Homo sapiens: one gene and its partners. The protein of the gene in region 3 interacts with the protein of the main gene of each other region in a pairwise test. Each region holds a gene or a part of one and is shown on either strand. Other genes may lie near its edges. The genes, in order: NDUFA13, RIPK2, NOD2, PPP1R12C, TRIM22, ANKHD1-EIF4EBP3 and IKBIP.

The links.
Region 1: the proteins of NOD2 (region 3) and NDUFA13 interact in binary tests that used the Homo sapiens proteins (3 or more experiments, as listed by UniProt).
Region 2: the proteins of NOD2 (region 3) and RIPK2 interact in binary tests that used the Homo sapiens proteins (3 or more experiments, as listed by UniProt).
Region 4: the proteins of NOD2 (region 3) and PPP1R12C interact in binary tests that used the Homo sapiens proteins (3 or more experiments, as listed by UniProt).
Region 5: the proteins of NOD2 (region 3) and TRIM22 interact in binary tests that used the Homo sapiens proteins (3 or more experiments, as listed by UniProt).
Region 6: the proteins of NOD2 (region 3) and ANKHD1-EIF4EBP3 interact in binary tests that used the Homo sapiens proteins (3 or more experiments, as listed by UniProt).
Region 7: the proteins of NOD2 (region 3) and IKBIP interact in binary tests that used the Homo sapiens proteins (3 or more experiments, as listed by UniProt).

Annotation. Positions count from the first base shown.
Region 1 is NC_000019.10:19,522,725-19,526,224, forward strand, and holds part of NDUFA13 (NADH dehydrogenase [ubiquinone] 1 alpha subcomplex subunit 13), read left to right. Parts: intron 1-3,457; coding exon 3,458-3,500. UniProt on the Homo sapiens protein: Accessory subunit of the mitochondrial membrane respiratory chain NADH dehydrogenase (Complex I), that is believed not to be involved in catalysis. Complex I functions in the transfer of electrons from NADH to the respiratory chain.
Region 2 is NC_000008.11:89,771,316-89,774,815, forward strand, and holds part of RIPK2 (receptor-interacting serine/threonine-protein kinase 2), read left to right. Parts: intron 1-425; coding exon 426-475; intron 476-1,351; coding exon 1,352-1,513; intron 1,514-3,500.
Region 3 is NC_000016.10:50,714,106-50,717,605, forward strand, and holds part of NOD2 (nucleotide-binding oligomerization domain-containing protein 2), read left to right. Parts: intron 1-902; coding exon of another isoform or gene 903-903; exon of another isoform or gene 904-1,376; intron 1,377-1,503; exon of another isoform or gene 1,504-1,650; intron 1,651-2,481; coding exon 2,482-2,565; intron 2,566-2,785; coding exon 2,786-2,869; intron 2,870-3,500. UniProt on the Homo sapiens protein: Pattern recognition receptor (PRR) that detects bacterial peptidoglycan fragments and other danger signals and plays an important role in gastrointestinal immunity.
Region 4 is NC_000019.10:55,111,138-55,114,637, forward strand, and holds part of PPP1R12C (protein phosphatase 1 regulatory subunit 12C), read right to left. Parts: intron 1,659-3,500; coding exon 1,528-1,658; intron 1,449-1,527; coding exon 1,330-1,448; intron 1-1,329. UniProt on the Homo sapiens protein: Regulates myosin phosphatase activity.
Region 5 is NC_000011.10:5,703,290-5,706,789, reverse strand, and holds part of TRIM22 (E3 ubiquitin-protein ligase TRIM22), read right to left. Parts: intron 197-3,500; coding exon 174-196; intron 1-173. UniProt on the Homo sapiens protein: Interferon-induced E3 ubiquitin ligase that plays important roles in innate and adaptive immunity.
Region 6 is NC_000005.10:140,404,833-140,408,332, forward strand, and holds part of ANKHD1-EIF4EBP3 (ANKHD1-EIF4EBP3 protein), read left to right. Parts: intron 1-3,500. UniProt on the Homo sapiens protein: May play a role as a scaffolding protein that may be associated with the abnormal phenotype of leukemia cells. Isoform 2 may possess an antiapoptotic effect and protect cells during normal cell survival through its regulation of caspases.
Region 7 is NC_000012.12:98,631,289-98,634,788, reverse strand, and holds part of IKBIP (inhibitor of nuclear factor kappa-B kinase-interacting protein), read left to right. Parts: intron 1-375; coding exon 376-493; intron 494-3,500. UniProt on the Homo sapiens protein: Target of p53/TP53 with pro-apoptotic function.

The DNA of each region.
Region 1 (3,500 bases), on a different chromosome or scaffold from region 3:
GCCTTGGCCTCCCAAAGTGCTAGAATTACAGGCGTGAGCCACTGCGCCCGGCAGGTCTTTGATCCTTTTGAGTTAATTTTTGTGGATGGTATAAAGAAGGAACGCATCCTCATTCTTTAGCATGTGGCTGTCTGGTTATCCCATTTGTTGAAAAGACTGTTTTCTCTCCCATTGAATTATCTTGGCACCTTTGTCCAAAATCAATTGACCATAAATGTGAGGGTTTATTTCTGGACTCTCAGTTCTGTTCCATTGATGAACATCTCTGTCCTATGCCAGTGCCACACTGTCTTGTACACACAGCTGTGGGATAAGTTTTGAAATACTGAAGTGTGAGTCTTTCAACTTTGTTCTTTTTCAAAATTGTTTTGGCTGTTCTGGTCCCTTGCATTTCCATATGAATTTCCCAACCTGCTTGTCAGTTTCTGCAACAGGAAAAGAAATGGTTGGGATTCTGATGGGGATTGCGTTTCAAATCTGTATCAGTTTGCACAGCGTTGCCATCTGCACAATGCTAAGTGCTCCAATTCTTGAACACAGGATGGGTTTTTATTTATTTTGGTCTTCTCTTAAGAATGGCCAAGGCCGGGCTCAGTGGCTCATACTGGTAGTCCCAACACTCTGGGAGGCTGAGGTGGGAGGATTGCTTGAGGCCAGGAGTTCAAGACCAGCCTGGGCAACATAGCAAGACCCTGTTTCTATGAAAAATATATTTTTCTTTTTTTTTTGTTTTTGTTTTTGGTTTTGTTTTCTGAAACAAAGTTTTCTCTGTCACCTAGGCTGGAGTACAGTGGTGCCATCTCAGCCCACTGCAACCTTGACTTCTTGGGCTTAAGTGATACTCCCACTTCAGCCACCCAAGTAGGTGGGACCACAGATACGTGCCACCACATCTAGCTAATTTAAAAATATGTATTTTGGGCCGGGCATGGTGGCTCATGCCTGTAATCCTAGCACTTTGGGAGGCCGAGGAAGATGGATTTACCTGAGGTTGGGAGTTCCAGACCAGCCTGGCCAACATGGTGAAACCTCGTCTCTACTAAAAAATACAAAAATTTAGCTGGGCACAGTGGCGTGCACCTGTAATTCCAGCTATTCAGGAAGCTGAGGCAGGAAAATCACTTGAACCTGGGAGGCGGAGGTTGCAGTGGGCTGAGATCGCACCACTGCACTTTAGCCTGGGCTACAGAGCGAGACTTTGTCTCAAAAAATAAAATAAAATACGTATTTTGTAAATGTTTCACTGTGTTGCACAGGCTAGTTGCAAACTCCTAGTCAAGTGATCCTCTCACCTCAGCCTCCCAAAATGCTGGGATTACAAGCGTGAGCCGAAAAAATTTGATCCCACCACTGCACTCCAGCCTGGACAACAGAGAGAGGCCCGGTCTCCAAAACCAAAAACAAAAAGAATGGTCCACACACCCTTTTGTGCGTGCCCCTCACCATGTTCCCCACCAGACTAGCAGTTCCTAAGGCACAGACTCTGAGGCCTGGGGCCTTGGCCCCCCTGTGGTTGGCGAGGAGGAAGAGCCCTGTGCAGGCTGCATGCAAATACAAGAGGCCCTGCATTGTTTCTGTCATCTCATACATCTCTGTTCTATGCCAGTGCCACGCTGTCTTGTACACACAGCTGTGGGATAAGTTTTGGAATTTATTTCTTCTTTGGAATTTATCTTACAGATGGGCCTGCGTATGAGTGCGCAGGTGTGAGGGTGCAGGTTCTCCCCAAGGGCCCATTTTCTGCACCAGAAGGCTGAGGGCAGCCCAGGTCTGTCCCCTGGGTTCTCTGTAGCCGTGGAAAATAATGAGATATGGCCGGGCACGGTGGCTCACGCCTGTAATGCCAGCACTTGCAGGTGGATCATGAGGTCAGGAGGTCGTAACCAGCCTGGCCAATATGGTGAAACCCTGTCTCTACTAAAAATACAAAAATTAGCCTGGCGTGGTGGTGGGCGCCTGTAGTCCCAACTACTCCGGAGGCTGAGGTGGAAGAATCGCTTGAACCCAGGAGGCAGAGGTTGCAGTGAGCCAAGATCTTGCCACTGCACCCCAGCCAGGGCAACAGAGTGAGATTCCGTCTCAAAAATAAATTAATTAAAAAAAAGAAAAGAACGAGATATGACCAGCCTGGGCAATATAGCAAGACCCCATCTGTACAAAAATTAGTTAACTGGACATGGCACACACCTGGGGTCCCAGTTACTCGGGAGGCTAAAGTGGAAGGATCACTTGAACCCAGGAGTTGGAGGCTGCATTGAGCCATGATTGCGCCCCTGCACTCCAGCCTGGGTAGCAGAGTGAGACCTTGTCTCAAAACCAAAAACCAAAAAAGGAAAAAAAAATGAACAAGGCAGCTGATGAAACCTCCCATGTGCTAGACAGGAGGCTGAGAGCTGGGAGCTGGCCCTGAGCACCCTGGGCCTCTCCAGAGATGTGCCTCTGAGCCCGGACCCAGCACACCCTCATTACCTGTAGTATGGAAATGTCTTAGCCCTGACTTGGGCTTCTAACAGGTTAAATAACCAGGTACAAATTTGAGCCAGTTTCTCATTTATCTCCGGGTCTAGCAGAGGTGCCCCCGTGAGCTCCATGCTGGAGCAGAGCTGAAGGCAGAAGAGCATGACAGGTGCAGAGCAGGGCCCGGCAGGCACAGAGTAGCCCCAGCAGGCATAGAGCAGGGCCAGTGCCCTGGAGGCCTGGAGATGGCCTTGCCTTCCACCTGCTGGTCATTTCCTGGGTGTTGACTGGAGCCTGGCCTACCTGAGCTTTTCATTCATCCCACCAAGTGCAAAGCCTGTCCAGAGAAGAGACTGGGGCTGGAAGGATCTGGAGGGTGCAGGGTGAGCCTGGGAGCCAGATCCCAGACAGCCCAGGCCTCTCTGAAGATCCCAGTGGGCCCCCAGCCTGTCAGTCAGGATTAGAGCAAGGCCCCACTGGTGCTCAGTAAATATTCATGATGGCCTAGGTCCTTCCTGGGGTGCAGGGCAGGGGGCTTCACCCTGCAGAGCCAAGAGGTAGCACGGCCACCCCTAGAGTCCGGGGGGTGGCTGGGCAGCCCCCACAGGGCACTGCCTGTCCCTGGCAGCTGTGTGCAGCCCCCGCAGGGCAGCACGCGGAACTGTGGCCCAGGTGGCCGGGAGCCACCATGGACACTGTCAGAACTGCCCTTCCACTTCAGGGCCAGCCTGCCGCCCAGGGTCCAAACAGCCTTCTAGAACACGATGGACCTGGGGCCCCCCTAGCAACCACCATCTAGACCCTCAGGCCTCCTGAGGTTGCTGCCTGGCTTGTACCTTTCAGAAAACCCCTGGCATGGGGGCAGAGGTGTCACAGTCCAAGCAGCCTCACTCCTGAGAAGCCGCCAGTGTCCCCTGATTGCAGAGTGGGCAGCGCCTGGAGCTGTGGAGGAGGGTGTCTGGGGGCGGGCTGGCCCGCTGAGCAGCGCCTCTCTTCACAGGCTACAGCATGCTGGCCATAGGGATTGGAACCCTGATCTACGG
Region 2 (3,500 bases), on a different chromosome or scaffold from region 3:
AGTTAAACTGTAGGCAAGATATTTCTACTACCAAAGAAGATAGTGCTGAGAGCAGAAAAAAGGCAGTAGAATAGAGCTCCATGAGACAATTTTTTTCTTGTTCTTTGTTCTTTGTGAAAAATAATATCATTTAATTAAAGGGCATAGCTTATCTGGGTGTCCAAGAATTAAATCATCCACAAAAAGTTAATCTTGCATGTAACGTTAAGCTTGTATTACAGTAATTTCCTAATTTTTTAACTTAAAGTTGATTTTGTTTCCAAACTACATGAGCATTTATCATCTTCATTGTATACAGTAATTCTTTGCTGCCTTATCACTTTGAAAAATGGTATCTTCAGTCAGCTTTTAAAAATAGTGCTATTTTAGTTTATTATGCAGAGTTCATTTAAAATATGTAACATGTATGTTCTTATGTTAAACAGCTATGCAGTTATCACATGGGAAGTGTTATCCAGAAAACAGCCTTTTGAAGGTAAGTATGGTTTGACTTTTTTATGCTCAATAACATCATGTTAGTAGGTCACTCTCAGAACTATCTAAAAATCATGTTATTTTAAATCTGCTTATTCATTTTGTGGAAAACACACTAAAACAACCATTTATCAGTTGTGAATGCATCACATACTGCAAAATATACCGGGTTAAGGATCCAGTTGTGAGTCTACTATATACTGGAAAATGTACTGGATTAAGGATCAGAAAAACCCAGATTTTAATTCTTGTTCTGACAGTAATTAGCTCTGTGATCAAGTCACAAATCTCTTGCGTCCTCATTTTTGTCGCCTGCATAATAAGAATTTTAAATTACTATTTCCAAGTTCTAGTCTAGCTGTAAAATTATTTATATGATAATTTAATTACTACCCCCTCTATAAAGACTAGCAAATATCGAAGACTAATCTGTCCTTTTTATTCCCTGAAAATATTGTTTATTTCTTTATTTTGAGGTTTGTGTAGGTCAGCTTGTTGTGTAACAAAAAACAACCTCGGAATCTCCGTAGCTTATGAAATAAACATTTATTTCTCATTCACATTAAATATTGGTTGCTGTAGCCCTTCTTAGTTCTGCAAGGTTTCGCTCAGCTCTGCTTTACAAATACTCTGTTGACCAAATCCAATCACATGGTCAAGCCCAAAATTAATGAGGTGAGGATATAAACTCATTCCATAGGAATCAGACAAGTCTGGCAATGGTTTGGGGTATATATATTCCTTTTACAGAAAGGGGGGTAAGGCATCATTCCTAAAATTTCAATATTCACTTATTTTCTTTTAGTTAGTTTTAGATGTAAGTAATATGCTTAATCATAATATATTACTAATGAATGCAATCTATTTGTTTTGACAGATGTCACCAATCCTTTGCAGATAATGTATAGTGTGTCACAAGGACATCGACCTGTTATTAATGAAGAAAGTTTGCCATATGATATACCTCACCGAGCACGTATGATCTCTCTAATAGAAAGTGGATGGGCACAAAATCCAGATGAAAGACCATCTTTCTTAAGTGAGTATATAGTTTTAACCTAGACTCTTTGAATTACAGAATTAGTTAATATACTGTGAATAAAATATTCCTTGAAAAATTGTGCAAATTAGATGACTAGCTAGAAGTTGTTTAAATTATTTTCTGTCTTATCATAGCATTTATATATGAGTAACTCCTTCTAGAGCAGAATTGAGAATTCCTAACAAAAAAGAGAAATCGTGTGATAGGAGTAACAATTTCTTTCATATATTTAACAAATATGTCTTAAACCCCTACCATGTGCTATGTATATACTGGAGTGAGCCCTGGGAACAGAGTAGTAAACAAGACAAACTTTCTGTAGCTAGTTCACATTCTAGTTGAGAAGGCAGAGTGAAAACAAATAAATAAGCAAGATACACAAATTGTGACAGTCTTATAAGGAAATAAGCAAGGTAATAGACTAATTAAGGGAGGGAAACAAAGGCCTTTTTTTAGGGGCAAACATTTGAGCTGACATTTGAAGCTTGAAAAAGAGCCAGTCATTCAAATGCTGAAGAAAGAGTATTCAGCCAAACAAAACAGCAAGCATAAAGGCTCTGAGCCTAGAAGAGGAAAAAGTTTTATATTCTCAAGAAACAGTGAGAAGGCCTGTGTGGCTGGAATACAGTGAGCAAGGAAAGGAATTAGATGATATTGGAGAGTTAAGAGAGAGGCTATTGGCCATCATAAAAAGGTTAGATTTTTATTCCAAGTGCAATGGAAAGCCATTAAAGTATCTTTTGCAGGGAAGTGACATGATCTGATAGAAGTTTAGGTGAAATTCTTACTGCTGTGTGGAAAGTTGATTGGAGAAAGACAAAAGTGGAAGCAAAGAGGCTAGAAAAGACACTTTCAGGAATATTCTAATTAAGGTGGAAATTCTGAAGACAGAAGAGTTACAGAATTAAGATAGTATTTCAGAGGTAGAATGGATCAGACATCCAAATGTAAATGTAGGAGAAAATCTTCATGACCTAGGGTTAGGCAGAATCTTTAAATATGACATCAAAAATAAATAGGATTCATTAAAAAATTTATAATCAGACTTTGCAAACATTGGAAACTTTTCCACTTCGAAAGGTACTATTGAGAAAAGAGAAAGCCAGGCATTTAGTGTCCACGACTTTAGTCCCAGGTACTTAGGAGGCTGAGGCAGGAGGATCACTTGAGCCCAGGAGTTTGAGGATGTGTAATAGTGCACTGTGATCGTGCCTATGAATAGCTACTGCACTCCAACCTGGGCAACATAGCAAGACCTCATTTCCAAGAAGGAAAAAAAAAAGCAGAGCCACAGACTGGGAGAAAATATTTGCATAACATGTATCTGCTAAAGGGCTTGATTCTAGAATATATAAAAAACCCTGACAAGTCAATAATAGGACATATAGCCCTATTTTTAAATGAGTAAAAGATTTGAATTTCACCAAGGGAGATATACAAATAGCTAAAAAGCACATAAAATGATGCTTAATATTATTAGTCATTTGGAAATGCAAATTAAAACTGCAATGAGTTACCACTTCATACCCACAAAATAGCTATAATTAAAGACAGAAAATAACAAGTGTTGACAGTGATGTGGCAGAACCAAAATCCGTATACATTGTTGGTGGGAATATAAAATGATGCTGCCACTTTGGAAAACGGTTTGGCAGTTTCTTAAAAATGAAAGATAAATTTACCATACAACCAAGCAATCCACTAACAGGTAAACCAAGAGAAATGAAAACATATGTTCACACAGTTGTATGTGATTAGTGATAGCAGCATTGTTTATAATAGCCAGCAAGTAGAAACGGTCATAATTACTGCTGCTACTACTACAACAATACATGAATCTGTTGTTCCAGGAAGAGTCCAGGATCCTAATATAAAATTGAACATCACTAACATATTGATAGTCTGGACTGGTTCATCTAAGAAGGGAATATACATAGCAAAGAGAGGACCCATAGTAAAGCTCTGAGGCATTCCAGCACTTAGA
Region 3 (3,500 bases):
ACCCCAAGAGGCCAGGCATCACTGGCCTGTGTGATCCTCATAGGCCAGTCCATCTCTGGAATTCTTGAATGGATCATCCATCCTTGATTAGGGATGTCCCCGTGATTACCAGGGTGTGCAGAAGGGCTCTGGGAAACCTGTGGGTCTGTCTCTGTGTTCAGAGAAAGGTGAGGGTGGCCTGGTTCTAGCTCATGGTGCTCAGACTGTGGTGTGTAAAGGCACTCGTGGCAATGCAGATTCCTGGGCCTGCCTCTAGTGATTCCCATTCAGTAGGTTTGGGGTGGGGCCCAGGAAATCTATATTTTTCACAGACACCCCTGGTGATTCTGATACAAGTGGTCTCGCCCTGGGAGAACTACTGGTCTGCAGCAACCAGCTTGGTTTTCCATTAGCAATTACTGTCCTTGAGCGAGTTTTACTGCTCTTCACCTTACACACACTAAAACTGCCAAGGCCGTAGGGGAGGGGAAGCAACCATGAGGTTGCTGTGAGTGCACTGTGTGTGTGTGTGTGTGTGTGTGTGTGTGTGTGTGTGTGTATGAGAGAGAGAGAGAGATTGAGAAAGAGAGGAAGGGAGGAAGGGGGAGGGCACAGGCTCCTCTCCCACAGTGCCAACCTGCCTCTCTCCCACTTGAAGTGTTTCCATGCCAACTGAAATCCTCAGCCTCTAGGAAACCCTATATACACAGTGCCCCTATATAGGTTTCTTTAGACTCTGGCTCTCTCAGACTCTAGAGTGATGGCTTTAAAAGTTTTTTGAATGTTACCCACAATGATTGAGAAAGAGAGAGAGAGAGCACGCACCACCATGTAAACATGGAACCTAAGTTTCACAAAATGACTTCGCTTTATGAACTCTGAGACACTCTGCTCTCTTCTGTTCTGTTCTATTTCCATTTTAGAAATGCTGCTCAGGACCTTCAAAATGATTTGCATGACCTGCAACCTGCAGTCTGAAAAATCACTGCACTACAGAAGTGGCCATAAGAGGCCCTGAGGGAGAAGCTGCACAATGTCATGGTTAAGAGTGGGGTTTGGAGCCAAGCCGCCTAGGCTCAAAGCCTTTATGTGCCGTACAACCTTGGCAAAGTCACTTCGCTTGTCTGTGCCTCAGTTTCTTTCTCACGAATGCTCATAATAATGGTTCCCATTTCACTGGCTTGTTGTGAGGATGAAATAGTGTTATTATTGAGAAGTGGTAAGGGTAGTGATCAGTGCTAGCGATCATGATTCTAGGTGACTTTTACTGTGTACCGGGTGCTCACAAGGCTTTATGTGCACAGCCTGGTGAGGCTGATAATACTATTGTTCCCTCTTTTTTTTTTTTTGAGACGGAGTCTCGTTCTGTTGCCCAGGCAGGGGGTACAGTGGCACAATCTCGGCTCATGCAAGCTCTGCCTCCCGGGTTCACGCCATTCTCCTGCCTCAGCCTCCCAAGTAGCTGGGACTACAGGCGCCTGCCACCACGCCCGGCTAATTTTTTTGTATTTTTGGTAGCGACAGGGTTTCACTGTGTTAACCAGGATGGTCTCGATCTCCTGACCTCGTGATCCGCCCGCCTCGGCCTCCCAAAGTGCTGGGATTACAGGCGTGAGCCACCGTGCCCGGCCTGTTCCCTCTTTTATAGATGAAGAGACCAGCAAATAACTAGTAAGTCGCTGATCAGGATCACAATATCCAGCTGAGGCACTCCAGAGCCTGAGCTGTTAACCATTCAGTCAGGGCCTCCCAAGTTTGCCTAAAGATAAAGAATCATGTGCACAGTTGTTAAAATATACAGATTCCTGGGCCCCACCCCGCAGATACTTGATTGCCAGCTCCAGGGTATGGGCCTGAGAATCTGTCTTTTAGGGAAGCTTTCAGATGATGTTGTGATCAGGTGAGTTTTGGGAATGGTGCCCCAAGAGGAGTGGCAGACAGGGCTTGCTCGGCAGGGACTAGCCTGTTGGAGTGGTGCCATTGGGGTTAAGGACTGGGCAGCAGGGCCTCACTAACCACAGCCTATATGCCTGTTTCTGAAGTTTTGGCCACTCTCATCCAGCTGGTCTACTGTCTGCTGACCTAGATGATGGTAAATTGTCCCCAGGGGTAGCCTGTCTAGTTCAGGCTGCACCTTTCGCATATATCAGCTCCTTTCCACCATCATCCCCTTTGTGAGGCTGCTGTGATTATCATGTTCCTTTTGCAGAGATGGAAACATTGCCTCAAATTAGCTCTGTCATTTCCTAAGGATTCCAGGGTTCTTTAGTAGGGGGTCTGGATCCTACGTCCTGGGCCATCCCCATCATAGTGCACCACGTCACCTCCCTGGCCAGGGACCGTGGGGTCTCCACTTTTTTGGGGTGCTCCATCTATGCAGGGTTTCCTGGAAGCACAGATGCTGGCACTTCAGGGATGAATGAAAGTCTTTTTGGGGGATTTGTAGATTTTTTTCTTGTCTTACTAGCTCCATTTTCAAATGTATTTATTTTGTCTCTTTAGTTTGCGCGATAACAATATCTCAGACCGAGGCATCTGCAAGCTCATTGAATGTGCTCTTCACTGCGAGCAATTGCAGAAGTTAGCGTAAGTCAGCCTGGGCTGTGGACAATGGGCTCCAAGTGCCCTGGTCTCACCCCAGGTCGTGCAGCCTGGGAAGCTGTGAGTGATGGGCTGGGGCAGGGGCTGTTTGCATGATGGGGGGTGCAGGTGATTCCTGCCCAGAGGGGAAGGGCAACCCTGGGATTTGGTGCTCACTGTCCAATGTGCTTTGCTTCTGTGTCTCCTCTCTTCTGGAACTGAACAGTCTATTCAACAACAAATTGACTGACGGCTGTGCACACTCCATGGCTAAGCTCCTTGCATGCAGGCAGAACTTCTTGGCATTGAGGTGAGCCCAGGTTTTCCTTATTCCCTGGAAACTATTTTTTGCCCCATTCCTGAGTCAGTCTGATCTGGTCTTGGCCTGGCACTGCCCACACTGGCTCCTGACCTCCTGATTGAATGCAGGGACAGTGTCTCATTTTAAGCAGGGGTTCTCTAATGCTGTGATCTCCCCAGTAAACTCTGGACTAGCTCTGCTGAGGACTTCCTGTCTTTTGACCTTTAGCCCGTAGGGCAAGAAAGCTTTTCTAGGCCCCTTTCCTTTTCTGTGTCTAAGAGTGTCACAGCTTTCTGGGTTTACTGAGTTCCACGATGCATGTTGAGCTCGTCCTGGTGGGGGAGGCATACACAGTTACTTGCCACCCCAGCTGTGGCAGCGAGTTGCTGCAACACTCCCAGGAGGTCCTTTCACCACTCAGAGCATGCAAGGTTTGCAGTCCATCTGGTTCTGCATTTCTGCTACTCCAGTGTCTCCCAGTTTCAACAGGAGTCTCTCTCTCTCCTACCTGATGCCTTTAAATTGCCCCTCTAGCTGGCCGCTGGGTTGGCCTGGCTTCTCTCTCCTTCTCTCTCTCTCAGATATTCTTGCCTCCTGTGATTTGTGAGGCAGTAAAAAAAGACAAAGTAAAGAATTGCTT
Region 4 (3,500 bases), on a different chromosome or scaffold from region 3:
GGGGTGGGGGGGAGGGGGGGGTGCATGGTTGGGGGTGATGGCTAAGCGGTTGCAGGGTTTCGTTGGGGGATGATGAAAATGTTCTACAACCAATGTGGTCATAAATGCCCGACCCCGTGAATAGACTAAAAAGCACTGAAGTGTGCACTTTGGGTGAATTGTAGGGTAGGTGAATTACATCTCAAAAAGCTGTCTAAAAAACAAAAACAAAAAAGAAAAAGCACTGGCGAATCTTAGTGAAAGTCATATGGGTAGTCACATGCTATTGCTTCAACTTTTCTGTAAATCTGAAGCTTTCCCAAAATAAAAAGTTGGAGGAGGAAGGAGACAGAATCCAGGTCCAGGGCTGATTTGACCCACTCCCCATTTCAACCAAAGAGGGGCTCCCGAACCTCAGATCTCCGCCGTCACGTGTCCCACTAGCTAGTCCTCCCGCATGGCTCTCGTGGACCCCTGAACCCACGCGGAATCCTATCCTTTCAGCCTGGCCAGCGGCCCCGTCAGGACAGCCGCGTCAGAAGTCTCGGAGGCTGCCGGTATCTCATTTCCTCGTCAGTCTCCCTTTCCTTCCACACGGTCCCCTGGAGTCTGCCGGGAACCATGCTCACACCCTTCCACTCCAACCCAGCCAGACCCTGACAACCACCCCATGAAGCGGCACCAGTGGTCCTGTTTTAGGAAATCAGGGAAGCAAGCTTCAGGGACGTGCCTGGAGTCACCAGTCACAGGCAGAGCTGGGAGGCAAGCCCAGGACTTTAGAAGACATGCTGGGGACCCAGGGATCCTGTGTGGCCATCACACACCTGCTAGAAGCAACACCCCTTCCCTAGAAAAATGAACCTGGCCAGACACAGTTTCAGGGGCTCCTGGACCCCATATGAAGGCTCCTGGGGTACGATGAGTCTCAGAGGACAGGGAGACCAGTCCCTGGCAACCCCTGCATGCCCCTACTCCCCCCCAAGTAAACGCATCCCCTCCCAGAAAGACCTGCGGCAGGGTTCCAGCAATCCTACCTAACGCACTCCTGGGTGAGTCCCTCCACCCACCCACCCCGCCCCGGCATTCCAATCCCCTCAGTTACTCAGGGGGATTGACAGTCCCAGTTGGTAGGGGTTTGAGTTCTCATCCTGTGCGTGTGCTGGGCTCCAAGCAATCCTGGAGGCAGGCCCCTACACCCCCATTTCACAGGTGAGGAAACTGAGGCACAAAGAAAGACAATCCTAGGAAGCAGGGTCAGCCTCGGTGCCCAGGCCGCCTCTAAAGCTCTCAGCCTGGAGACCACGGGTGAGGAGGTGTCCCCCACCCCACACACAGCACACCAGAGCCCACCTCGGCGGGCGATCTCCGCCTTCAGCAGCCCCTCCATGGCGTCCGACTCGGCCAGGTCCAGGGGCAGGTCCCCGTCACTGTTGACGGCGGCGATGTTGGCCCCGTGGCTCAGGAGGTACCTGGGGGTGGGGGCTGGTCAGGGCTGAGGGTCCAGGCCCCCACCCCGACCAGGTCCTGCCCGGCCCTCCCTTGCCTCACCTGGCGATATCTAGGTAGCCACAGGAGGCGGCCACGTGCAGTGGCGTCCAGCCCTCGTTGTCTGCCTGGTTCACAGTGGCGCCCTGCTCCACCAAGAAGCGCACCACCTCCAGGTTCTCATCAATGCAGGCCTGGGGGTGGGAAACAGCCGTCAGCCGCACCTACCCCAGCCACGGTGTCCCAGCAAGTCGGGACTCCAGAGGGAGCCACGAAAACAGATCCAGGGACACGGTGCTAGGACAGTGGGGAAAATGACCCAACAGCCTCTGGCCACTGGCTGTTTAAGATACGCCTGGTTGCCCAGTGGTCAGGCCGGCCAGGCCTTCAGTGCTCAGTGGAAACCACGAAAGGACTCCTGGCTATCTGCAAACAGGAAGTGAACGGGGAAGGGAGGGGGCTTCTCATCTGGGTGCGGGAACCCCACATGGTACCTGTTAGACACGGCAAAACCCCCGTCACCACCCACAGGTGGCGCTTCCAGTGCTCAGACTAGGGAAGAGGTTCCAGCCCCTCCTCCTTCAGAGCCAGGAGTCCTGGCCCCCAGCCCCTCCTGCCTTAAACCCAGCCAGGTCCTTCCAAGGGTCAAGCTCGGAAACCACCCCAGCAGATACTCTGCAGGAACGAAGCCGTGGGCCCAGGGCTATGCAGGGTGGAGGAAGGCCACCCTGTGCTGGGACAGACTCAGGGGCCTGGGCGGGACTCCCAGAGGGGTGAGACAGCTGCACACCTGTGTGCCTGGGCCCCAGGCTGTCACACTCCAGTTCACTGAGGCCCCCTCTGCACGGGGCCCTGCAGCCAGGGGCTGACACGGGCCACCGTTTCTCATTCTTCCCTTAGGGGTCCAAAACTTGGGGGGACAAAAGCCGAAGTCCAGGGGGTCGGAGGAGGGACTTGCCCCAGGCCTTGTGGACACTGGGTGGGCTCCGGGACCTGAACTGGAGCTGAGGAAGGAGTGAAGCTAAACTCCTAGATCCACGGGATAAATTACCCCCCAAGTCCCTCACCTCTCCAAAGCTGCCCATCTGGAGGAGGCGGGAGGGAGCTACGAGGGCCAAGAGCATGAGGTCATGGAAACTCGGGCTGTGAAGGGGCCGCACGTGCCCTGGGAACGGGATGAACTCGGCTCGTTTATTTCCACCCAGTTGTCATGGCGATAGGGGAGGGGGGCAAGGAGAGCAATGGGCCTTTCCCTTTCAAGGACCTGCCCAGTACAGGCATCCCTGTGAAAGATGCCTGAGGCCTGGGCACCAGGGACTCCAGAGTCCAGGCCCAACCCCTCCCCATTCAACCCAGGAGGCCAGGCCCCAGCCCTTCCGCCCTCAGATGAAGGAGTCCAGGCCCCCAGCCTCTCCCCATTCAGACCCAGGGGTCCAGGCCCAGCCCCGCCTCCCTAAGACCCAGAAGTCCAGGCCCCCAGCCCCTCCTCCCTCAGACCCACGAGTCCAGGCCCCAGCCCCTCCTCCCTCGGACCCAGGAGTCCAGGCCCCCAGTCCCTCCACCCTCAGACCCAGGAGTCCAGGCCCCAGCCCCTCCTCCCTCGGACCCAGGAGTCCAGGCCCCAGCCCCTCCTCTCTCAAACCCAGGAGCCCAGGCCCCCAGCTCTTCTCTGTTCAGCCCTAAGAATCCTGGCTCCAGCCCCTCCTACTCTAGCCCCCAACCCCCTAGCCACTAAGGCAATTGGGGTGCAGGAATGGGGGCAGGGTACCAGCCTCACCAAGTGGTTGATAAACCCACGTGGGGTACCCTAAGAACTTGGGAACAGCCACAGCAGGGGGGCGATGCTTGGGGACCTGCCTGGAGAAGGATGCAGGACGAGAAACACAGCCCCAGGTGGAGAAACTGGCCGGGAATCAAGAGTCACCCAGAGACAGTGACCAACCATCCCTGTTTTCCTAGGACTGAGGGTTTCAGTGCTAAAACTAGGCTGTCCTGGGCAAACAGCATAAGCTGGTCACCCCACACCCAGACCTGAC
Region 5 (3,500 bases), on a different chromosome or scaffold from region 3:
CAAAATTTCTTACAATTGAAAACTTTAATCTGTGACTAGCAATTTGGGACAATTTAATACACAAATTTCCCAGCCTTTTGATTTTTTAAGTTGTTCTGATTGAAGGAAGATATCTCTCAGGACTATAATTCTCTTTTCAGACAAATAAGACCACATCTCTCTTCCACATATACCTTTTCATGACGTCAATCACATCCTGGGGAAAAGATAGAAAACATGAGTCAAGATAGGGTTGCCAGATTTAGAACATAAAAGTGGCTAGTTCAATTAGAATTTGGGATAAACAATATATTTTTTGTTATATATATGACCCTTATAATATTTAAGATATTCTTATACTAAAAATATTACATTTCTTTTATCTGAAATTAAACTTTAACTGAGCATCCTGTATTTTGTCTAGCAATGCTCAAAAAAGTAATAGGCCCTCCTATCTTACAAAGTTTTATCCACCTTCCTCCCCACACTCTTACTATCCCTGGATATGGTGGGAATAAATAGATGGTCACAGACTGGGGACAAAGTGTGGAGATAAGATTCAGACTGACCACTGCAGAGGACTAAGATGAGGGTGTTAGGAAGATGCTTCAAGTATCTCAAGAAGGAATATATTTTAAAAAGAGGGAGGAGCTCTAATATTTTTATACATTTTTAATGAGAAAACCTCATTAATTCATTGTGTTTTTATTTTATACATCAACAGACACAAAACAGCGAAATACGTTTGCCCTATATTTTTTCAGGCTTTAGGGATCTAATGATGAAAATTAATAATAAAAGTCCTTAAGAAGTGTACTGTTGCCGTGAGCAAAAGCAAGCAAGCATTTCAACTAAAAGTTTGTCTGGCCTCCATGTACTCACTGTGTATGCTGACTAAACTCCACTGTAGGTGATCTCATACATTTTTCAGTATGAAACAAGCCACAGGACCAAGTAACTGAGTAGGTCTTAAATGTAACTTACTATTTCCCAACTATTTACACCCCACTGTCCCGAATAGTGTCAATATCCACTTAGTCATCATCTTTGAAACTATAAAATTTTATCCTGGATTCCAACATTTTATTAACCTAGACTAGTTTACATTTTTAACTGTTTTTAGCTATCTTTTCTTTCTCACCATAACCATTATTTCCTTTATTTTTTTGAACAAGTATGTACCAATATATTTGATCTCCCGCTGTCTGATCTGACCCCCTTTATACCAACAAAGACTTGACCTCCAGTTGACTTCACACCCTCAGAAATAGTTTCACTGCCTGTATTAGCTTTTTTGTTGTTGTAATATCTGACAAAACCAACTAAAACTGGTTTAAATTTTTAAAAAACAAATTCAAGGGGTCAAGTATAATTTTACTCATAGCTACATCTTTAAACTAAAATCTTGCCATCAGAATCTGGTTTTTCTTCTAAAAATTATATTTCATACCTATTATATTGACTTATTTTCAGATTAATTATGGCATCAGCTTGACTCTCCTGGTTTAAATTATTATCCCTGATATGATACCCATCAGAAAAGACAACGGCTCTTTTTACTCATGACAGTAAAATTCTAAGGCATGCAAACCATCGACTCCAATTGAGTCAAGTATATATCTTAAAATAATTACTGTAAAGTTGGTAAAAATATAAGAGTTGGATATAATGATTTGCCAGAACTGAGTAACATATACATGCCTAATGCTACTAATTTTGTCTACTTTAACCAACTGCAGGGAATGAGGCAGGGTAGGGATGGTTCCTCAAAAGTTATTATAAAGAAACAATCAAAAGGAATAGAGGTTAGACAGACAAACAAATATTGTCCTCTATGGTCCATTCCTCAGCTGTCTGCCACGTCTTCAGCCTTATTACCAAACTGTTTGCAAAAAATGGCACATTCCTCAGCTCTCTGCCACCTCTTCACCCTTATTACCAAACTGTTTGTGAAACAGGGCACAATATAATACAATGGCTACAATAACATTAAAAATAGATAACTTATACCATATAACCACTATAACTAAAAATAAATCAAAGACCTAAAGATATAAAACTCCTAGAAGAAAAGGGGAAAATTGCATGACATTGGATTTGGTAGTGATTTGTTGGCTATGATACAAAAAGTAAAGGCAATGTGAGAAAAAAATAAATAAACAGATCTTTACCAAAATGAAACTTTAAAAAAATCACTTTTAAGTTATGAAGAACACTATGAAGAGAGCGAAAAGGCAATCTACAGAATGGGAAAGCATATTTACAAATTATATGTCTGATAAGGTATTAATATCCAGAATCTATAAATGACTCCTAAAATTCAACAAGAAAATCAACATCCATTCAGATAAAACCTCTCAACAAACTGATAATAAAAGAGAACATCCTAAAAACTGATAAGAAACATGTATAAGTAGTATACAACTAATAACATAATTAATAGTGAAAGTCTGAATTACTTCCTCCTAAAATCAAGAAAAAGACTAGCGTGTGTGGTTTCACCACTAAGGTCAACATTGTATTGGAAGTTTTATCAAGTGCAATAAAGAAAAAAAAAGAAAGATAAAGAAGAAAAGAGTAAAAATAAAAAGAAATAAGACATCTAGCATGAAAGAGAAGTAAAACTATATTTGGTTTGGTAGAATGATTTATTTTCCTTTGGGTATATACCCAGCAGGGGGATTGCTGGGTCTAACAGTAGCTCTGTTTTAAGTTCTTTTAGAAACCTCCAGACTGCTTTCTACAATGGCTGAAATAATTTACATTTCTACCAACAGAGTACATGTTCCCATTACTCTGTAGCCTCACTAGCATCTGTTAATTTTTGACTTTATAATAATAGCCATTCTGACTGTTGTGAGATGGTATCTCGTTGTGGTTTTGATTTGCATTTCTCAGGTTATTAGCAATGATGAGCATTTTTTCATATGTTTGTTGGCCACCTGTATGTCTTCTTTGGATAAATGTCTGTTCATGACTTTTGCCCATTTTTAATGGGGTTCTTTGTTTTCTTGCTTGTAGCAAAGACATGGAATCAACCCAGGTATCCATCAATAGTAGACTGGATAAACAAAATGTGGTACATATACACCATGGAATACTACATAGTCATAAAAAAAATAAAATTTCCGGGCGCGGTGGCTCATGCCTGTAGTCCCAGCACTTTGGGAGGCTGAGGTGGGCGGATCACGAGGTCAGGAGATCGAGACTGTCCTGGCTAACAAGGTGAAACCCCGTCTCTACTAAAAATACAAAAAATTAGCCGGGCGTGGTTGCAGGCGCCTGTAGTCCCAGCTACTCGGGAGGATGCAGCAGGAGAATGGCCTGAACCCGGGAAGCAGAGCTTGCAGTGAGCCAAGATTGCGCCACTGCTCTCCAGCCTGGGTGACAGAGCAAGACTCCATCTCAAAAAAAAAAAGAAAAAAAAAGAATAAAATTATGTCCTTTGCAACAACATGGATGCAGCTGGAGGCCATAATCCTAAGCAAATTAACACGGGAACTGAAAATCAAGCACTGCAT
Region 6 (3,500 bases), on a different chromosome or scaffold from region 3:
TATAGGCACACGCTACTGTGCCTGGCAACCATTTGCTTTTTTATAAGTAATAGTCTTAAATTTCTTCACAGGTAGAGCACTAGTTTGCCCCCAAAGTCATAAATTTGTCTCTCTCTCTTTCTGACTGTGCATGTCTGTGTGTGTGTGTGTGTGTGTGTGTGTGTGTGTGTGTGTGTGTGTGTATGTGTAATGGTCTTTGGAGTCTCCATACCATGTAATTAAAGCTATGGGCAGAATCCATGCCTTTTGTATTTTTGAAGCTTATTGTAGAAGTCATGTGTTGGTGATTCCTACACCCACTTAGTGGTGCCTAATGTTAGAAGAGCCCCATATTCTCCTGTTTACTTATGTTTTCTGTGCCTAAAAGGATTTACAGGTTAAGAGTACATGTAGACCTCATTTTTGGAATGGAAGTTTCTAGGATACCCACTTTAGCCTAATCTAAGATGATGCTTAGTGGGTGTATAGATGCTTTCTTAATCTGTGTAAGCAGGAAATTTTTTTTGGGTCCTGTTTCTCCCATATCACATAGAGAGGAAATTCTTGGAGTATCTAGTCTTTATAGTATGTGTGGTAGAGTATAGTCTGTGCCTTTGTGAATAAAATGACCTGTTTTGGCCAAGCAAAAATTTTCCCTTTTCTTTTTCTGTCTGACAAGATGAGCTGTCTTCTTTTATTATTATTGCCTTTGAATTTTCAGTGTGAAAAGGTAACAGTGTTCTTCAAAAAATACTCATGTAATTGGCATTTGATGAATAATACTAAAATCCTCCGTCTCATCTTTCCTAAATATTTTGTTTATTTTTATTTATTTTTTTGAGACAGGGTCTCATTCTGTCACCCAGGCTGGAGTGCAGTGGCACGATCTTGGCTCACTGCAACCTCCGCCTCCTGGGTTCAAGCGATTCTTCTGTCTCACCCTCCTGAGTAGCTGGGATTACAGATATCCACCACCACTCCCAGGTAATTTTTATATTTTTGGTAGAGACAGCGTTTTGTCACGTTGGCCAGGCTGGTCTCAAACTTCTGGCCTCAAGTGATTCTCCCACCTTGGTCTCCCAAAGTGTTGGGATTACAGGTGTGAGCCACCATGCCTGGCCTTCATTTTTCCTAAATATTTATAACCACCGGGCATGGTGGCTCACGCCTGTAATCACAGCACTTTGGGAGGCCAAGGCGGGTGGATCAGCTGAGGTCAGGAGTTAGAGACCAGCCTGGCCAACATGGCAAAATTCTGTCTCTATTAAAACAAAAAATTAGCCGGGCTTGGTGGAGGGCGCCTGTAATCTGAGTTACTCAGGAGGCTGAGGGAGGAGAATCGCTTGAACCCAGGAGGCAGAGGTTGCAGTGAGCCGAGATCACGCCACTGCCCTCCAGGCAGGGTGACAGAGAGAGACTCTGTCTCAAAAAAAAAAAAAAATAAATTATTTTAGAAACAAGTACCTAGACATCCAAAAAGATGATGAATTGGTGTGTAGTTTGGGAGTGAAGTTTGTCTTGTTGCTCTAATGGGGCAGGATTAGGTGAGAAATAAGAAATGTGGAGCCCTAGTATTTTTGCTCTAGAATTAGTTGGTCTTCTACATTTTGTGTACAGAGGAGTAGACCCTCTAAGGACCTCTTTATATTTAATATCAGAGCCAAGAGCTGAGAAAAAACAAGCTACTCTTTCTTGCTGGCCAAGCAAAAGACCTTTTGGTTAGAGGAATGGACTCACATCTTTCAGTACATTTTTTTTTTTTTTTTGAGATGGAGTCTTGTCGCCCAGGCTGGCACGATCTTAGCTCACTGCAACCTCTGCTTCCTGCATTCAAGTGATTCTCCTGCCTCAGTAGTGAGATTACAAGTGCGTGCCACCATGCCTGGCTAATTTTTCTATCTTTAGCAGAAATGGGGGTTTCACCATATTGGCCAGGCTGGTCTCGAACTCCTGACCTCAGGTGATCTGCTCGCCTAGGTCTCCCAAAGTGCTGGGATTACAGCCGTGAGTCACCCACCTGGCCCTTTTGTTATTTTAAACATTGGGGTAAATACCTGCTTCGTATTTCTTCAGGCATTCTTAGCATGTTTCTTAGCTATCGAAGCCCTTGATTAGAAGAGCTAGCACTGCATTGAATCCTATTAAGAAATGTATCCATGTTCAGAATAGAAGTTAGGTTAAAAATTTCTTAAAAACCACTTTAGGCCTGGTGCGGTGGCTAACGCCTGTAATCCCAGCACTTTGGGAGGCCGAGGTGGGTGGGTCACAAGATCAGGAGTTTGAGACCAGCCAGACCAACATGGTGAAACCCCATCTCTACTAAAAAACAAAAATTAGGTGGGCGTGGTGGCACGCACCTGCAATCTCAGCCTACTCAGGAGGCTGAGGCAGGAGAATTGCTTGAACCTGGGAGGCAGAAGTCGCAGTGAGCTGAGATCGCGTCACTGCACTCCAGCCTGGGTGACAGAGTGAGACTCCATCTCCAAAAAAAAAAAAAAAACCACTTTAAAAAATGGTTTTTATTTTAAATTTTTATTTATTTATTTTGAGATTAGGATTACAGGTGTGAGCCACCACACCCAGCCTATTTTTATTTATTTATTTATTTTTAGAGATGGGCTTTTGCTCTGTCACCCAGGCTGGAATGCAGTGGCATGATCATAGTTCACTGCAACCTCGAATTCCTGGGCTCAAGCAATCCTACTGCCTCAGCCTCCCAAAGAGCTAGGTCTAACTAGAGGTGTACTCCACCACTCCACCTGATTTAAAAAAAAAAAAATGTTGCCCAGGCTAGTCTTGAACTCCTGGCCTCAAGGGATCCTTCTGCCTGGGCCTCCAAAAATGCAGAGATTACAAGTTGTAAGCCACTGTGCCTGACCGAAAAACCAATTTTTAAATTTTAATTTTAGAATTGTGGTCTTTTAATTTTTTTAGCAAATCGAAATAAAAATACAGTTTCTAAAGAAAAGATTGTGTGAGACATGGTTTTCAATTTTTGTCGTAAGAATGAATGTGTGTGTATATGTGTGTTTGTGTGTGTATGTGTGTGTGTGACGGCCCTCTTTTAAAATTATTACAAAAGTGGCCGGGCGCGGTGGCTCACGCCTGTAATCCCACCACTTTGGGAGGCCAAAGCGGATGGATCATCTGAGGTCAGGAGTTTGAGACCAGCCTGGCCAACATGGTGAAAGCCTGTCTCTACTAAAAATACAAAAATTAGCTGGGTATGGTGGCAGGCGCCTGTAATCCTAGCCACTTGGGAGGCTGAGGCAGGAGAATCTCTTGAACCCGGGAGACGGAGGCTGCAGTCAGCCAAGATCATACCAGTGCACTCCAGTCTGGGTAACAGAGCAAGACTCCATCTCAAAAAATTAGAAAATAATAAAATTATTACAAAATAGTTACTTGTTGAAAAACTCAACAATATAGATAGTAGGTATAAGGGGAAAAGTAAAAGTGCTTCTTCCCACCCCCATTAATTCTTCAAATTCTACCCTTCAAGGTAACCAATATTAAAATTT
Region 7 (3,500 bases), on a different chromosome or scaffold from region 3:
GCAGTGAGCCTAGATCGCGCCACTGCACTCCAGCCTGGGCGACAGAGTGAGACTCCATCTCAAAAAAAAAAAAAAAAAGGCTAAAGACCACCTTTGGCAACATAGCGAGATGGACAGTCCTAGCTATTTGGGAGGTTGAAGTAAGAGGATCACTTGAGCCCAGGAGTTCAAGGCTGCAGTGAGCTATGATTGTGACACTGCATTCCAGCCTGGGTGACAGAGTGAGACCCTGTGTGAAAAAAAAAAAAAAAAAACCTACAGCTACCCATACCAGAATTTATGTTGTTCTTAACAGAAGTGGGTATAATTCTCCTTTGAAATTCGGATTTAAATGGATATGAATTGGAGAATAGTGATTTTTCTTTTCTTTTCCAGGTTTGTATTTCAGCAGTCAGAAAAATTTGCAAAGGTGGAAAACCAATACCAGTTACTGAAACTAGAAACCAATGAATTCCAACAACTTCAAAGTAAAATCAGTTTAATTTCAGAAAAGGTAATCATTAATTGGCTTATCTGGGACGGTTTTCCCATTTTACTACCCCACTATCATTTCTCTATCCCAGCTCAGAACTTCTTTCTTCCTGCCTTTTAGACCATCACTATTTTAACTCTCACTGATCTTCCTACCTCTTGACATTCTCCCTCTGAGCCATTTTGACTCAGATTGCATTTTGAGGGGCAAGGATTTTTTAATATGATAATTTCTAGTATTGAAAAAGACCAATTTGTTCATATTAGCATGATGTTAATTTTCTACTTAAGTGTCAGGTATCTAGAGCATTGAAAATATGGTTGATCATGTCTACAGCCATACCACCCTGAATGCGCTCGATCTCATCTGAAAATATGGTTGATCTTTGGACATAAAATTAGAATATGAATAGCACTTATTGGGAAAAGATCTATCCATTTTTTCCCTTACTTTTTGCTTTTTAAGGATATATGTACATGCATTTAAGAATGGCTAGCCTAGGCTGGGAGTAGTGGCTCATGCCTTTAATCCCAGCACTGTGGGAGGCTGAGCCAGGCAAATCACTTGAGGTCAGGAGTTAGGAGACCAGCCTGGCCAACATGGTGAAACCCCATCTCTAGTAAAAATACAAAAATTAGCTGGGCGTGGTGCACACGCCTGTAATCCCAGCTACTCGGGGGGCTGAGACAGAAGAATCTCTTGAACCTGGGAGGTGGAGGTTGCAGTGAGCCAAGATCACACCACTGCACTGTAGCCTGGGCTATAGAGCGAGGATCCGTCTCAAAAAAAAAAAAAAAAAAAAAAAAGAATTAAAAAAAAAAGAACGGCTAGCCTAAAAGTAACTATTTGTCCTGTAGCCAAATAAGAATTCCAATGAAAATTAAAATAATACCATGTCTATATTGTGTTCCTTCAAGTTGCTGATTTCTACCAGATGCGTTATTACTGTGATTCTTAGAAATGTGAGACAAATAAACATTTTTGTAACTCCCACACCTCTCAGGAGAAAGTCAAAGTCAGCTGTGATCAATAAGGCATCATGTAGGCCTATTCTGGGTACCAGGGACCAAGCTATCATTGGGAAATATGGCTTTTTGTTCATTTATTCATTCACTAAACCTTTGCTCATGTCACAAGGTAAGCAAGGACCTATGCTTGGCACCAGGGTGGGTAAGGATGTTGTAAAAATAGAGATGAAATGGAGCATCTAAGTCCCTGCAGCCCCATGCACAGGATGAGCATATAATCCTCCAGAAGAGAAAAGCCATGGAGGAAAATTAAGTATCCCTCACAAATGCCAGGGGATTCCATGGATGGTGAGTGTAAGGGATTTGGGGAAGGAGCTGCAAAGGAGTTGGTATTTTCACATAGGGCTCAAATTGGAATCTGAGCCAGGCGTAGTGGCTCATGCCTGTAATCCCAGCACTTTGGGAGGCCAAGGCAGGCGGATCACCTTGAGGTCAGGAGTTCGAGACCAGATTGGCCAACATGGCGAAACCCTGTCTCTACTAAAAATACAAAAATATTAGCTGAGCATGGTGGTTCATGCCTGTAATCCCAGCTACTTGGGAGGCTGATGTATGAGAATTGCTTGAACCTGGGAGGCAGAGGTTTCAGAAGTGAGCTGAGATCATACCACTGCACTCCAGCCTGGGCAACAGAGTGAGACTCTGTCCCAAAAAAAAAAAAAAAAAAATTGGAATCTGGTTGTAGCTGTTGGGGGAACTCTAACATACCATTAGAAGAAATCCCAGGGGCAAGAAACTTCATATATATATATATATATATATATATATATATATATTTTTTTTTTTTTTTTTTTTTTTTTTTTTTCAGATAGAGTCTCTCCCTGTCATCCCAGCTCTCACTCTGTCATCCAGGCTGGAGTGCAGTGTTGGAATAACAGCTCAACCTCCCAGGCTCAAGCACTCCTCCCAACTCAGCCTCCCAAGTAACTGGGACTAACAGGCACGCCACTGCACCCAGCTAATTTTTTTTTCTTTAATTTTTTGGAGAGACGGGGTCTTGCTACATTGCCCAGGCTGGTATCAAACTCCTGGCCTCAAATGACCTTTCTGCCTCTGCCTCCCAAAGAATTGATATTACAAGTGTGAGCCACTGTGCCTTGCCAAAACTTCACATATTTAATTAAAAGCTATTGAAGGCCGGACGCGGTGGCTCACGCCTGTAATCCCAGCACACTGGGAGGCCGAAGCAGGCAGATCACGAGGTCAGGAGTTTGAGATCAGCCTGGCCAACATGGTGAAACCCCATCTCTACTAAAAATACAAAAATTAGCTGGGCGTGGTGGCGGGCGCCTGTAATCCCAGCTACTCGGGAGGCTGAGGCAGGAGAATCACTTGAACCTGGGAGGTGGAGATTGCAGTGAGCTGAGATCACGCCATTGTGCTCCAGCCTGGGCAACAGAGTGAGACTCCATCTCAATAAATAAATAAATATAAATAAAAGCTATTGAAAACTTATTTTGAACAAGATTTCTCCTTTTTTTTTTTCTTTTTTTTTTTGTGGGGGAGGTCAGGGGTGGTACAGAGTTTCACTTTTCTCATCCAGGCTGGAGTACAATGGCTCGATCTTGTCTCACTGCAACCTCCGCCTCCCGGGTTCAAGTGATTCTCCTGCCTCAGCCTCCCGAGTAGCTGGGACTACAGGTGTGTACCACCACACCCGTCTAATTTTTGTATTTTTGGTAGAGACGGGGTTTCACCATGTTGGCCAGGCTGGGCACGGTGGTTCACACCTGTAATCCCAGCACTTTGAGGGGCCGAGGTGGGTGGATCACCTGAGGTCAGGAGTTCAAGACCAGCCTGGCCAACATGATGAAACCCCATCTCTACTAAAAACACAAAAATTAGCTGGGCATGGTAGCGTGTGTCTGTAGTCCCAGCTACTCAGGAGGCTGAGGCAGGAGAATCGCTTAAACCGGGGAGGCAGAGGTCACAGTGAGCCGAGATTGCACCACTGCACTCCAGCCTGGGCAACAAAGTGAGACTCCATCTCAAAAAAAAAG